Linked DNA regions of Homo sapiens: region 2 is linked to region 1. Evidence: fine-mapped QTL for protein levels in blood plasma. A gene starts in region 1. The other region holds a variant in brackets. All regions are shown on one strand. Distances are between the middles of the regions.

Evidence for each region. A credible set is the group of variants that fine-mapping cannot tell apart. PIP is the posterior inclusion probability: the model's chance that the variant is causal. Protein levels are from antibody-based Olink assays in UK Biobank. Linkage for the fine-mapping came from a reference panel and not from the study's own genotypes, which makes the PIPs less certain.
Region 2: its variant is the best candidate, but not a certain one, in a credible set for the plasma level of the TNFRSF12A protein (UK Biobank, PIP 0.67).

The regions. Positions count from the first base shown.
Region 1 is chr16:3,017,891-3,023,249 of GRCh38, forward strand. TNFRSF12A (TNF receptor superfamily member 12A) reads left to right here and starts at 2,478. Exons shown (of 4, transcript NM_016639.3): 1 at 2,478-2,601; 2 at 3,325-3,429; 3 at 3,665-3,799; 4 at 3,881-4,493. The coding sequence starts at 2,508. The coding sequence ends at 3,936. It overlaps CLDN6 (claudin 6), which reads right to left and starts at 293. Exons shown (of 2, transcript NM_021195.5): 1 at 259-293. HCFC1R1 (host cell factor C1 regulator 1) reads right to left here. Exons shown (of 4, transcript NM_017885.4): 3 at 5,343-5,359; 4 at 4,735-5,108. The coding sequence ends at 4,973. RefSeq lists enhancers at 1-294, 892-1,487, 2,256-2,900, 2,807-4,006, 3,546-4,189 and silencers at 2,327-2,546, 3,397-3,566.
Region 2 is chr16:2,979,973-2,985,331 of GRCh38, forward strand. PKMYT1 (protein kinase, membrane associated tyrosine/threonine 1) reads right to left here and starts at 474. Exons shown (of 9, transcript NM_004203.5): 1 at 314-474. RefSeq lists enhancers at 1-40, 41-916, 917-1,793, 2,838-3,339 and silencers at 208-437, 448-807, 3,460-3,509, 3,750-3,809, 3,764-3,950. The variant TA/T (reference allele first, on the strand shown) is at 2,343.

The sequences.
Region 1 (5,359 bases):
GCAAGGCAGGTGGGGGAGGGGCGCCAGGGGTTTCGGAGTCTTTGTCCCTGGGGAGGGGGGAGGGGCGTTTAACCCTTGGGAGCCCCGAAGGACCCTATCACCTCGGAGGCTTGGGCGCGGACCGGCCGACCCCCTCAGGGACTCGCCCATCCAGGTGGCCGCAGCCCGAGTTCGCACGCACCCCTACCCACGCCGCCACCACCCTGCACCCGGCCCCAAGAGGCGTCTCTCCAACACGCACACTAGCCCCGGACTCACCTGCGAAGGAGATAAGGGAAATTCCTAGGCCGAGTGTCGGGACAGGGGCGGAGGCGGGGGTCTTAAAGAAGCGGTGACGTCACTGGACCACCGCCCCGGAGGAGGGGCAGAGACCCTGTCCCTGACGGCAGCGGGCGTGCGAATCCCAGGCTTGTCAGAGGGGGGCGCTGGAGGCTGGGGTCGCTGGGCCCGCCTCGGGCTGGCAGACGTCCAGACTCACCCAGGGTGAGGGCGCCAGGCTTAGGGTAGAACAGAGCTTGAGACTCCGCTTCACCACTTAAGCAGCGCGGTGACATGGGGAACTCACCTAACCTTCCCGAGCCTTCGTTTCCTACTCTGCAAAATGGAGATAACAAGTCTGCATTTTATTATGTAACTACGTCCTAAGGTACAAATTAAAGGGCATACTATTGGTATTATTTTAGAGAAATATTTTCACTGTGTCACCCAGGCTGGAGTGCAGTGGTGCGATCACGGCTCACTGCAGTCTCGACCTTCTGGGCTCAAGCGATCCTCCCGCCTCAGCCTCCTGAGTAGCTGGGACTACAGGCAGCACACGCCACCGTGCCCAGCTAATTTATGTTTTGTTTTGTATAGACAGGGTCTTGTTATATTGCCCAGGCGTCTCGAACTCCCGGACTCAAGCGATCCGCCCGCCTTGGCCTCGCACTGCGCTGGGATTACCGGCTTAAGCCACCGCGCCCGGCCAGATAATATTATTTTTATGTTGCTGGTTTTTTGTTGTTGTTGTTGTTTGTTTTTGAGATGGAGTCTCGCTCTCTCGCCAAGGCTGGAGTGTGGTGGCGCGATCTTGGCTCACTGCAAGCTCTGCCTTCCGGGTTCACGCCATTCACCTGCCTCAGCCTCCAGAGTAGCTGGGACTACTACAGGTGCCCGCCACCACCCCCGACTAATTTTTTTGTATTTTTAGTAGAGACGGGGTTTCACCGTGTTAGCCAGGATGGCCTCGATTTCCTGACCTCGTGATCTGCCCGCCTCGGCCTCCCAATGTGCTGGGATTACAGGCGTGAGCCACCGCGCCCGGCCTGTTTTGTTTTTTGAGATGGAGGCCCTCTCTGTCGCCCAGTCTGGAGTGCAATGGCGCTATCTCGACTGACTGCAACCTCCGTCTCCCAGGTTCCAGAAATTCTCCTGCCTCAGTCTCCCGAGTAGCTGAGATTACAGGCGCCCACTACCACGCCCGGCTAACTTCTTTCTTTTTTTTATTTTTAGTAAAGACGGGGGTTCACCAAGTTGGCCAGGCTGGTCTCGAGCTCCTGACCTCAGGTTTAATTGTTATACCCCCCGGGCCCTTAACAAAGCTGTAGTGGCCAGGCTAACCTGGGCAACATAGTAAGACCCTGGTCTCTACAAAAAATACAAAAATTAGCCGGACGTGGTGGGGCAGGGCCTGTGGTCCCAGCTACTTGGGAGGCTGAGGTGGGAGGCTCACCTGAGCCCAGAGAGCCGTGATCGTACCACTGCACTCCAGGCTGAGCAAGAGTGAGACGCAATCTCAAGGGGAGGTGGGGGGAAGGAAGCTGCAGTGATCTCTGCATGGATTGGTCGTGTGTCTGATTTCTTTTTATTGTTTGTTTGTTTGTTTATTTATTTATTTATTTATTTATTTATTTATTTGAGACGGACTCTCACTCTGTCGCCCAGGCTGGAGTGTAGTGGCGCGATCTCGGCTCACTGCAACTTCTGCCTCCCGGGTTCAAGAGATTCTCCTGCCTCAGCCTCCTGAGTAGCTCGGATTGCAGGCGCGCGCCACCACGCCCGGCTAATTTTTGTATTTCGAGTAGAGACGGCGTTTCACCACGTTGGTCAGGCTGCTCTCGAACTCCTGACCTCGTAATCCGCCTGCCTCAGACTCCCAAACTGATGGGATTAAAGGCGTGAGCCACCGCGTCCGGCCGTTCGTGTCTGATTTCTATATGTGCTGCCGAAGCGAGCACTCGTGTCTAATTTTTGATTTCCCCACACCACGCACGCTGGACTAGATCACCGGCTGGGCAAGGAAGGGGGTCTGCGTCCCTGCGGGGTCCTGGCAGCTCCCGCGCCAGGACTTTGTTGAATGAATGACTGAACTGAGCGGGCGCCGCGGGGCGGGGCGTCCCGAAGCGGACCTCAAGGCGGGCGGAGGCGAGAGCTCCGCCCCGGAAGGCGGGGGCGGGGGCGGGGCGGCGGCCGTGGGTCCCTGCCGGCCGGCGGCGGGCGCAGACAGCGGCGGGCGCAGGACGTGCACTATGGCTCGGGGCTCGCTGCGCCGGTTGCTGCGGCTCCTCGTGCTGGGGCTCTGGCTGGCGTTGCTGCGCTCCGTGGCCGGGGAGCAAGCGCCAGGTACGCGGGACTCCGGGGTCGGGGAACCCCGGGCCGGGGCTCGGGAGCCGGACTGGGTGTCTGGAGAACAGCGCCGAACTGGGGGAACAGGCGGATGTGGGGATCTGGGGTCAGGTGGCCTTCAAACAGCTCGCTCCCGGCTGTGGGAAGTTCCATCACTCTCCAAGCTTCATTCACAATCCGGGCCTCAGTTTCTCCCACCGTCCAATTGGGGTTGGGGGGGGTCTTCAGTTCCACAAGTCCGAAGTACTTCGAATGGAGAGAGAAAGTGAGTGAGGGCGGGATGTTTAGTCTAGGAAGGGGCACGCCCCCAGCCTGGTCCGTACAGGGTCTAACTAGCCCCAGTGATCGACGAGTTGGGGAGGCCGTCGAGAGGCACTAGGGTCTGTGCCCTCTATACCATGTGGGGTGCCCCCTTCCATCCGGTGACTTCAGTGCCCAGCTATGCGGGGGGAGGGACTGGGGTCGGGCCCGGTGCCCAGGAGTGAGTCACCCGCCGGCGGCAGGGGGGTTGTGGGGACCTGACCCCCCCCACCCCCAGCGTCCCGCGCTACGCCCTCCCTCCCGGAGCTGCCGTGTCCCGGTCGGGCCGTGCGGTCACCTGTGAGGAATGCGCGGGGAGGGCGCCGGTGACTCACGTTATTCGAGCCGGCCGACCCTGACCTCAGACCCCAGAATAGCCGAGTCCCGCCCCCAGCCTCTGACCCGAGGCCCCCTCCCCAGGCACCGCCCCCTGCTCCCGCGGCAGCTCCTGGAGCGCGGACCTGGACAAGTGCATGGACTGCGCGTCTTGCAGGGCGCGACCGCACAGCGACTTCTGCCTGGGCTGTGAGTGGGGGGCAGGGCCAGTGGCCAGCGGACCCCAGACTGGGAGGGAGGGTGGCTGGTGCGCAGAGCGGGGCCGAGAGCTTTGCATCTGGGAAATCATTCGGGAGGAGGTGGGAGCTGGGAGGGGGCTCCGGTCAGGGAGGAGGCCACGTTTGGGAGAAGGCAGAAGGCTCAGTCTTAGGGGGCGGGGCTGGCCTGGAGAGGGGCGAGGTCTGACTCCGAGTCCCGCCCCCAGGCGCTGCAGCACCTCCTGCCCCCTTCCGGCTGCTTTGGCCCATCCTTGGGGGCGCTCTGAGCCTGACCTTCGTGCTGGGGCTGCTTTCTGGCTTTTTGGTCTGGAGACGATGCCGCAGGAGAGAGAAGTTCACCAGTAAGTGTGCCCTGGCCTGCCCAGCCCTGTCAGCACTCGACCTTTTCTCTGCTGCTGACGACCCCACCTCTTATCTTGCAGCCCCCATAGAGGAGACCGGCGGAGAGGGCTGCCCAGCTGTGGCGCTGATCCAGTGACAATGTGCCCCCTGCCAGCCGGGGCTCGCCCACTCATCATTCATTCATCCATTCTAGAGCCAGTCTCTGCCTCCCAGACGCGGCGGGAGCCAAGCTCCTCCAACCACAAGGGGGGTGGGGGGCGGTGAATCACCTCTGAGGCCTGGGCCCAGGGTTCAGGGGAACCTTCCAAGGTGTCTGGTTGCCCTGCCTCTGGCTCCAGAACAGAAAGGGAGCCTCACGCTGGCTCACACAAAACAGCTGACACTGACTAAGGAACTGCAGCATTTGCACAGGGGAGGGGGGTGCCCTCCTTCCTAGAGGCCCTGGGGGCCAGGCTGACTTGGGGGGCAGACTTGACACTAGGCCCCACTCACTCAGATGTCCTGAAATTCCACCACGGGGGTCACCCTGGGGGGTTAGGGACCTATTTTTAACACTAGGGGGCTGGCCCACTAGGAGGGCTGGCCCTAAGATACAGACCCCCCCAACTCCCCAAAGCGGGGAGGAGATATTTATTTTGGGGAGAGTTTGGAGGGGAGGGAGAATTTATTAATAAAAGAATCTTTAACTTTAAATGGTTTGGAGAGGCAGTGATCCCCGACTGACTCCCCTGAGCTGGAGGGAGGGAGTGAGTCAGCCAGCCGCGGGGGCGGGGGTGAGGCTCTGACTCACACATTCTCAATGCCTGGAACTCAGCCGGCAAGGACCTGGCTGGCCCTAACAGTTTTCCAGGGAAGATCTTGAGGAGAAACCCCAGCATCCCGCGCCTCTGCCCTCTCCACCATCCCCAAAAGCCCCAGGTTCCAGACTGAAGCCTTCCTTTGCTCAGCAATCTTTATTCAGTTCTTCTTGGGGGTGGGATGCCTCCCTTCCCATGCTCCCACCCCTCCCATCCCAGAACTCCGTTGGGCTCAGTGTCCTCTGTTGAGGGAAGGTCTTGGTGCCCAGATGCCTACTCTGCAGGAGAGGGAGGAACCTTGTCCCTTTGCGGGAGTCGCTGGTCTCTTCTGTTGTGGGGAAGAAGGAAGGTGGGAGGGGCACTGTCCACCAGCACTCAGAGCTCCATTATGTCCCCAGCTGGGGTTGCAGGGTAGGGGGGACTGGGGGTGTCCCCCAGCCTCAGCAGACGGAGGGCCTCAGGGATGAGGCTGCCAGGATAGCGCCAGAGAAGCAGCTCAGAGCAAGGGCTCCTAGAAGAGGAAATGACTGTCAGGGCATGGAGCTGAGGCTGGCCTAGCTGAGCACCTCCCACCAGGTCCAGGTCCCCAGGGGCTCCTGGGTTCCCAGCACTTTCCAAAGAGCCAAGATGGGAAACAACCCAGAGGTCAGCTAGAGCTAAAAATGGCACGATGAGGCAGGGCCTGAGGTCAGCTGTGAGGACCGCCTGTGATTCTGCAGAAGGCCTGGCCAGTGGAGGAACCTACCTGAGTGGGGGCAGGGC
Region 2 (5,359 bases), 38 kb before region 1:
GAGGCTGTCCCGGGGCAGGGGCTGTCACGGAGGAAGGACTGTCACGGGGAGGGCGGCGGCGCGGGGTTGATGGACAGCAGGCGGGGTCTCCGGGAGGGGCGAGTAGGGCGGGACCGCCGCTGGGAAGGGGCTCGAGGCAAGGGAACCAGGAATTGGGGAGGACGGGAGGCAGGGGCTCGCGGGGGCGGGCCTGAGGGGACGCGAGCGGGCCGCCGGGGAGGCCTGAGGGGCAGGGGTAACGCAGACCTGGCGAGGCGGAGGGGAGCGGCGAGGTGGCCACGCCGAGGCCCCTCACGGCGGGGTCTGGGCTCACCTGGGGCGACTGGGCGGGGCGCGGGTCCGCGAGGGCCCAGATTCCGGGTCCGCGGAGGCCACGGGACCCCTCGGGTGGCTCAGCGGGCCGGAGTCTGCCGTCGACTGTTCCGGACGCCCGGGCGGAGGACTCCCGTGAGGGGGAACGGCCCGTGAACGCGCGCGGAGCTGCTCGCGCCAAAAATTCCAAACCGGCCTCGAGGCTCCTCCCCCTCCCCAGTGCAGCCCGTCAGGGGTGCCCGGGCTCCGAGGCTCCGCCCCTCGTGCTGCGTGCGCGCCGCCGAGCCGCCCCGCCGCTCACTGCGCAGGCGCACAGGATTCTCCGCGCTGGCCCGGGGCGTGGGTGGCGGCCTGGTTCTGAGTCGCTGCGCGGGGCTTCAGCCGCCCAGTCCCTGGGACGCCCACTGCCCTCCAGGCCTCGCACCCGACACCCACCGCCCTCGCTGGGCTGGCGTAGTGTTTGGGTCCATAAAAGGGACCGCCATCCCGGTGCTCGGAGCAGGCGTAGCCCCAGGGTTACTCCGGGTAGGACCAGGAAGTCCCTACGGCCTCCTGGGTCCCGGCACCCCCCTTCTCACTCCGGCCGTGTTCTGAACCAGGGTCGCGGTGGGAGGCCAGACGCACGACCCCCAACCCCTAGCGCACGGCTTCGGGAGCCAGAAAAAGCCGCCTCTTCCAGGAAGCTCTCCAGATAGGCAGGACTCTGCTTGGCCTGACCTCGCCTGCCTGCAGCTTCCCTGCCAACAGGCCTCAGATACTTTTTTTTTTTTTTTTAGACAGGGTCTCACTGTCACCAAGGCTGGAATGCAGTGGTGCAGTCCCCAGGTTCAGGCGGTTCTCCCAACCTCAGCCTGCCGAGTATGTGAGATCACAGGCGCGCGCCACCGCACTCGGCTCATGTATTTTATTTTTAGACAGGGTCTCATTCTGTTGTCCAGGCTGGAGTGCAGTGGGGCGATCTCGACTCACTGTAACTTCCGCCTCCCCCGCTCAAGCGTTCCTCCCACCTCAGCCTCCTGAGTAGCTGGGACCACAGGCGCGCGCCACCACACCCAACTAATTTTTGCATTTTTTTGTAGAGACGGTGTTTTACCATGTTGGCCAAGCTAGTGTCGAACTTCTGACCTCAAGCGATCCGCCCGCCTCGGCCTCCCAGAAGGCTGGGATTACAGGCGTGAGCCACCGCGATTGGCCGCAGGATCATAGTTCACTGCAGCCTCGAGCAGCCACTTCCGGGGCAGCTCCTCCATTCTCTGAGTTTGAGACTTGCTCTCAGCTCAGATCCCTTCAGCGCTCTCCTGGCTGAACGACCTTGGGAATGCACTGAGCCTTTCTGAGCTTCGGATTAGTCTCCTCTCCTGGAAAAAAAAAAACAGCTGAGGACGCTGGGATGATCCCCTAAAGTGATTAGCAGGGGCCCTCGCGGAGCAAGTCGGGCTAGGGATTGTTCCTTCCCTCACCGAGGGGCTCTTTATCTGTTTAACTGGGTGGGAGGAGTACGCTTCCGGCCAACCCTCCCCCAAACGCTGGCCTTCTCACTCTCACCTCTCCTTCCGCCTTATTTTTGCTATTGCCCTGATCTCTGTCCGATGTTCTATCTTTTGTTTGTGAGTTTACTTGTTGACTACCTGCTCCTTCTAGCCCTGGCCTCCAGAACCAGTCCCCCAAACCCTCCATCCTCCCCAAGTCTCTGACAGGTCATGGACTGCAAAGCTTCCCACCCATTCAGTTCCTGCACCCTCTGTAAACGTTCTGTGCATGGAGCAGCAGTGTGGGGGAGGAGAGGCTGGGATCCTGGCTGGGGGCGGCAGCCCACCTGCCTGCACCTTTCCTTGTCCTTCGCATCTCTGGCGGCTGTGCCCCAGTGACTCAGGCAGGATCCTTGTTGATGACTCCAGACTGGCCCCCAGGAGGCCTGGGGCACACACAGGCCCCTCCCCAGCTGCCTAGGGCTACCTCTGCCAGCCCCATCTCCCCAACAGGTCCCCTTCCAACCGCCCATTTTTTAAAGTCTGATTCACAATGATAAT[TA/T]AAAAAAAAAAAAAAAAAGCATGGAAACACATGCTTCCGATGTAAATTTCACTGTGTGAGGAAAGGCTGTAATATAAATATATGTAAATGGAAATAAGTAGATGGAGCAGATAAGTGCGTGGTGTGAGGGAAACTAGGGCTGCGATCCTGCCTGCCCCAGTTTCTGCGTGTGTAAAATGGGGATAAAAATAATAGTTTTCTAGACTAGGCAACATAGCAAGGCCCTGTCTCAAGAAAGAAAAAAGAAAGAAAAGGAAGGGAAGAAAGGGAAAGAAAAAGAGAAAGAAAGAAAGGAAAGGAAAGGAAGGAAGGAAAGAAAGGGAGAGAAAAAAAGAAAAGAAAGAAGAAATAAAGCAGTGAGGCACAGTGGTACACACCTGTAGTCCCAGCTCCTCAGGAGGCTGGAGTAGGAGGATCACTTGATCCCTGGAGTTAAAGGCCGCAGTGAGGGCCGGGTGCAGTGGCTCATGCTGGTAACCCCAGCAGTTTGGGAGGCTGAGGCAGGTGGATCACTTGAGCTCAGGAGTTCGAGACCAGGCTGGCCAATATGGTGAAACCCCTTCTCTACTAAAAATACAAAAATTAGCTGGGTGTGATGGCAGGCGCTTGTAATCCCAGCTACTCGGGAGGCTGAGGCAGAATTGCTTGAACCTGGGAGGCAGAGGTTGCAGTGAGCCCACATCGCACCACTGCACTCCAACCTGGGTGACAAGAGCGAGACTCTGTCTCAAAAAAAAAAAAAAAAAAAAAGGCTGCAGTGAGCCTGGGCAACAGAGTGAGACCCTGTAAAAAATATAAAGTGATAATAATAGTAGTTCCTCCTTCCTCGGGGAGTATGAGCACCACATGAGAAAATGCCTGTGAAGTGCTTAGCACAGAGCCGAACACACAGTAGGGGCTTACTCATTGTTTCAGAATAACAGGCTGGGCGAGGTGGTCACGCCTGTAATCCCAGCAATTTGGCAGGCTGAGGCGGGCAGGTCACTTGAGCTCAGAAGTTAGAGACCAGCCTGGGCAATATGGCAAAACCCTGTCTCTACAAAACATTCAAAAATTAGCTGGGCATGGTGGTGTGTACCTGTGCTCCCAGCTAGTCAAGAGGGTGAGGTGGGAGGATCGCTTGAGCCCAGGAGGTGGATGCTGCAGTGTGCCGAGATGGCGCCACTGCACTCCAGCCTGGGCGACAGAGCGAGACTCGGTCTCAAATTAATAATAATAATAATAATAATAATAATAATAATAATAATAATAAAATAGTAAGACCCCCTCATCTGTACAGTCTGTTGCAGTTTTCAACGCTGCAGTCTGGGCCAAAAAGAGGCCCCAGGAGGAAAGAAGCCCGGACTCCTCTAACCACCTTGGGGTCACAGGGACCGAGGCACGGGCCCACAGGGTTCCGGACCAAAGCGCTTTGCCGACCTCCTTCCAGGAGGAATCCTCCCAGCCGCCGCCCAGGCACCCGGTTCCCGCGAGTCCCACCCGCGCGACCAGGCGCGGGCCGCGCGCGCCCCCGTGTGTCCCGTCGCCGCCACAGCACCCGCGGCTCCGCCCAGACTCTCCAAGGAAGACTCACTCATGCGGTTTCGGCCACAAAAGGAAAGGCGAGGCCGGGCGCGGTGGCTCACGCCTGTAATCCTAGCACTTTGGGTGGCCGAGACGAGCGGATCACCTGAGGTCAGGAGTTTGAGACCAGCCTGGCTAACATGGTGAAACGCCGATTCTACTAAAAACACAAAAATTAGCCAGGCGTGGTGTCGGGCGCCTGTAATCCCAGTTACACAGGAGGCTGAGGCAGGAGAATCGCTTGAACCCGGGAGGCGGAGGTTGCAGTGAGCCGAGATGGCGCGACTGCACTCCAGCCTGGGCGACAAGAGCAAGACTCCGTCTCAAAAGAAAAAAAGCGAGGGAATGACGACCACAAGTGCAAACGTGGCTATCCTAATGGGAGGAAGGGGACTGTGATGGGTGCTTCTGCGGAACTGGCTATGTTCTACTTCTTGACCCAGGTGCTGGGTGCATAGGGGTTTGTCTCATAAGTACGATAGCTGCACGGCACATTCACATCTCATGTGTGCTAATCTTTGCATGCTATGTTTCACACTTGAATAAGGTTTTTTATTTTATTTATTTATTTATTTATTTATTTTCAGACGGAGCCTTGCTCTGTTGCCAGGCTGGAGTACAGTGGCGCGATCTCGGCTCACTGCAACCTCCACCTCCCGGGTTAAGCGATTCTCCGGCCTCAGCCTCCCGAGTAGCTGGGATTACAGGCGCACACCACTATGCCCAGCTGATTTTTTTATTTTTAGTAGAGACAGAGTTTCACCACGTTGGCCAGGATGGTCTCAATCGCTTGACCTGGTGATCCACCCGCCTCGGCCTCCCAAAGTGCTGGGATTACAGGCGTGAGCCACCGCGCCCAGCCTGTGTTTTGATTATTTTTGAGACAGGGTCTCACTCTGTTGCCCAGGCAATAGTATGATCACGATTCACTGCAGCCTCAACCTCCCAAGCTCAAGTGATTCTCCCACCTCAGCCTCCCAAGTAGCTGGAACCACGGGGGTGCACCACCCAACCCTGGCTAATTTTTAATTTCTTGTAGAGACGGGGGTCTCATTATGTTGCCCAGGCTGGTCTCGAGCTCCTGGGCTCAAACAATCCTCCTGCCTCGGCCTCCTGAAGTACTGGAATTATAGGCATGAGCACTGTGCCTGGCCACACTTGCATAAGGCTTTTATTTTTCTGACACTACACCAAAGGAATTGCATAAGGTTTGGTTTTGTTTTGTTTTGTTTTAAGACGGAGTTTCACTCCTGTTGCCCAGGCTGGAGTGCAGTGGTGCGATCTCGGCTCACCGCAACCTCCACCTCCCGGGTTCAAGCAATTATCCTGCCTCAGCCTCCAGAGTAGCTGGGATTACAGGCATGTGCCACCACGCCCGGCTAATTTTGTATTTTTAGTAGAGACAGGTTTTCTCCATGTGGTCAGGCTGGTCTTGAACTACCGGCCTCAGGTG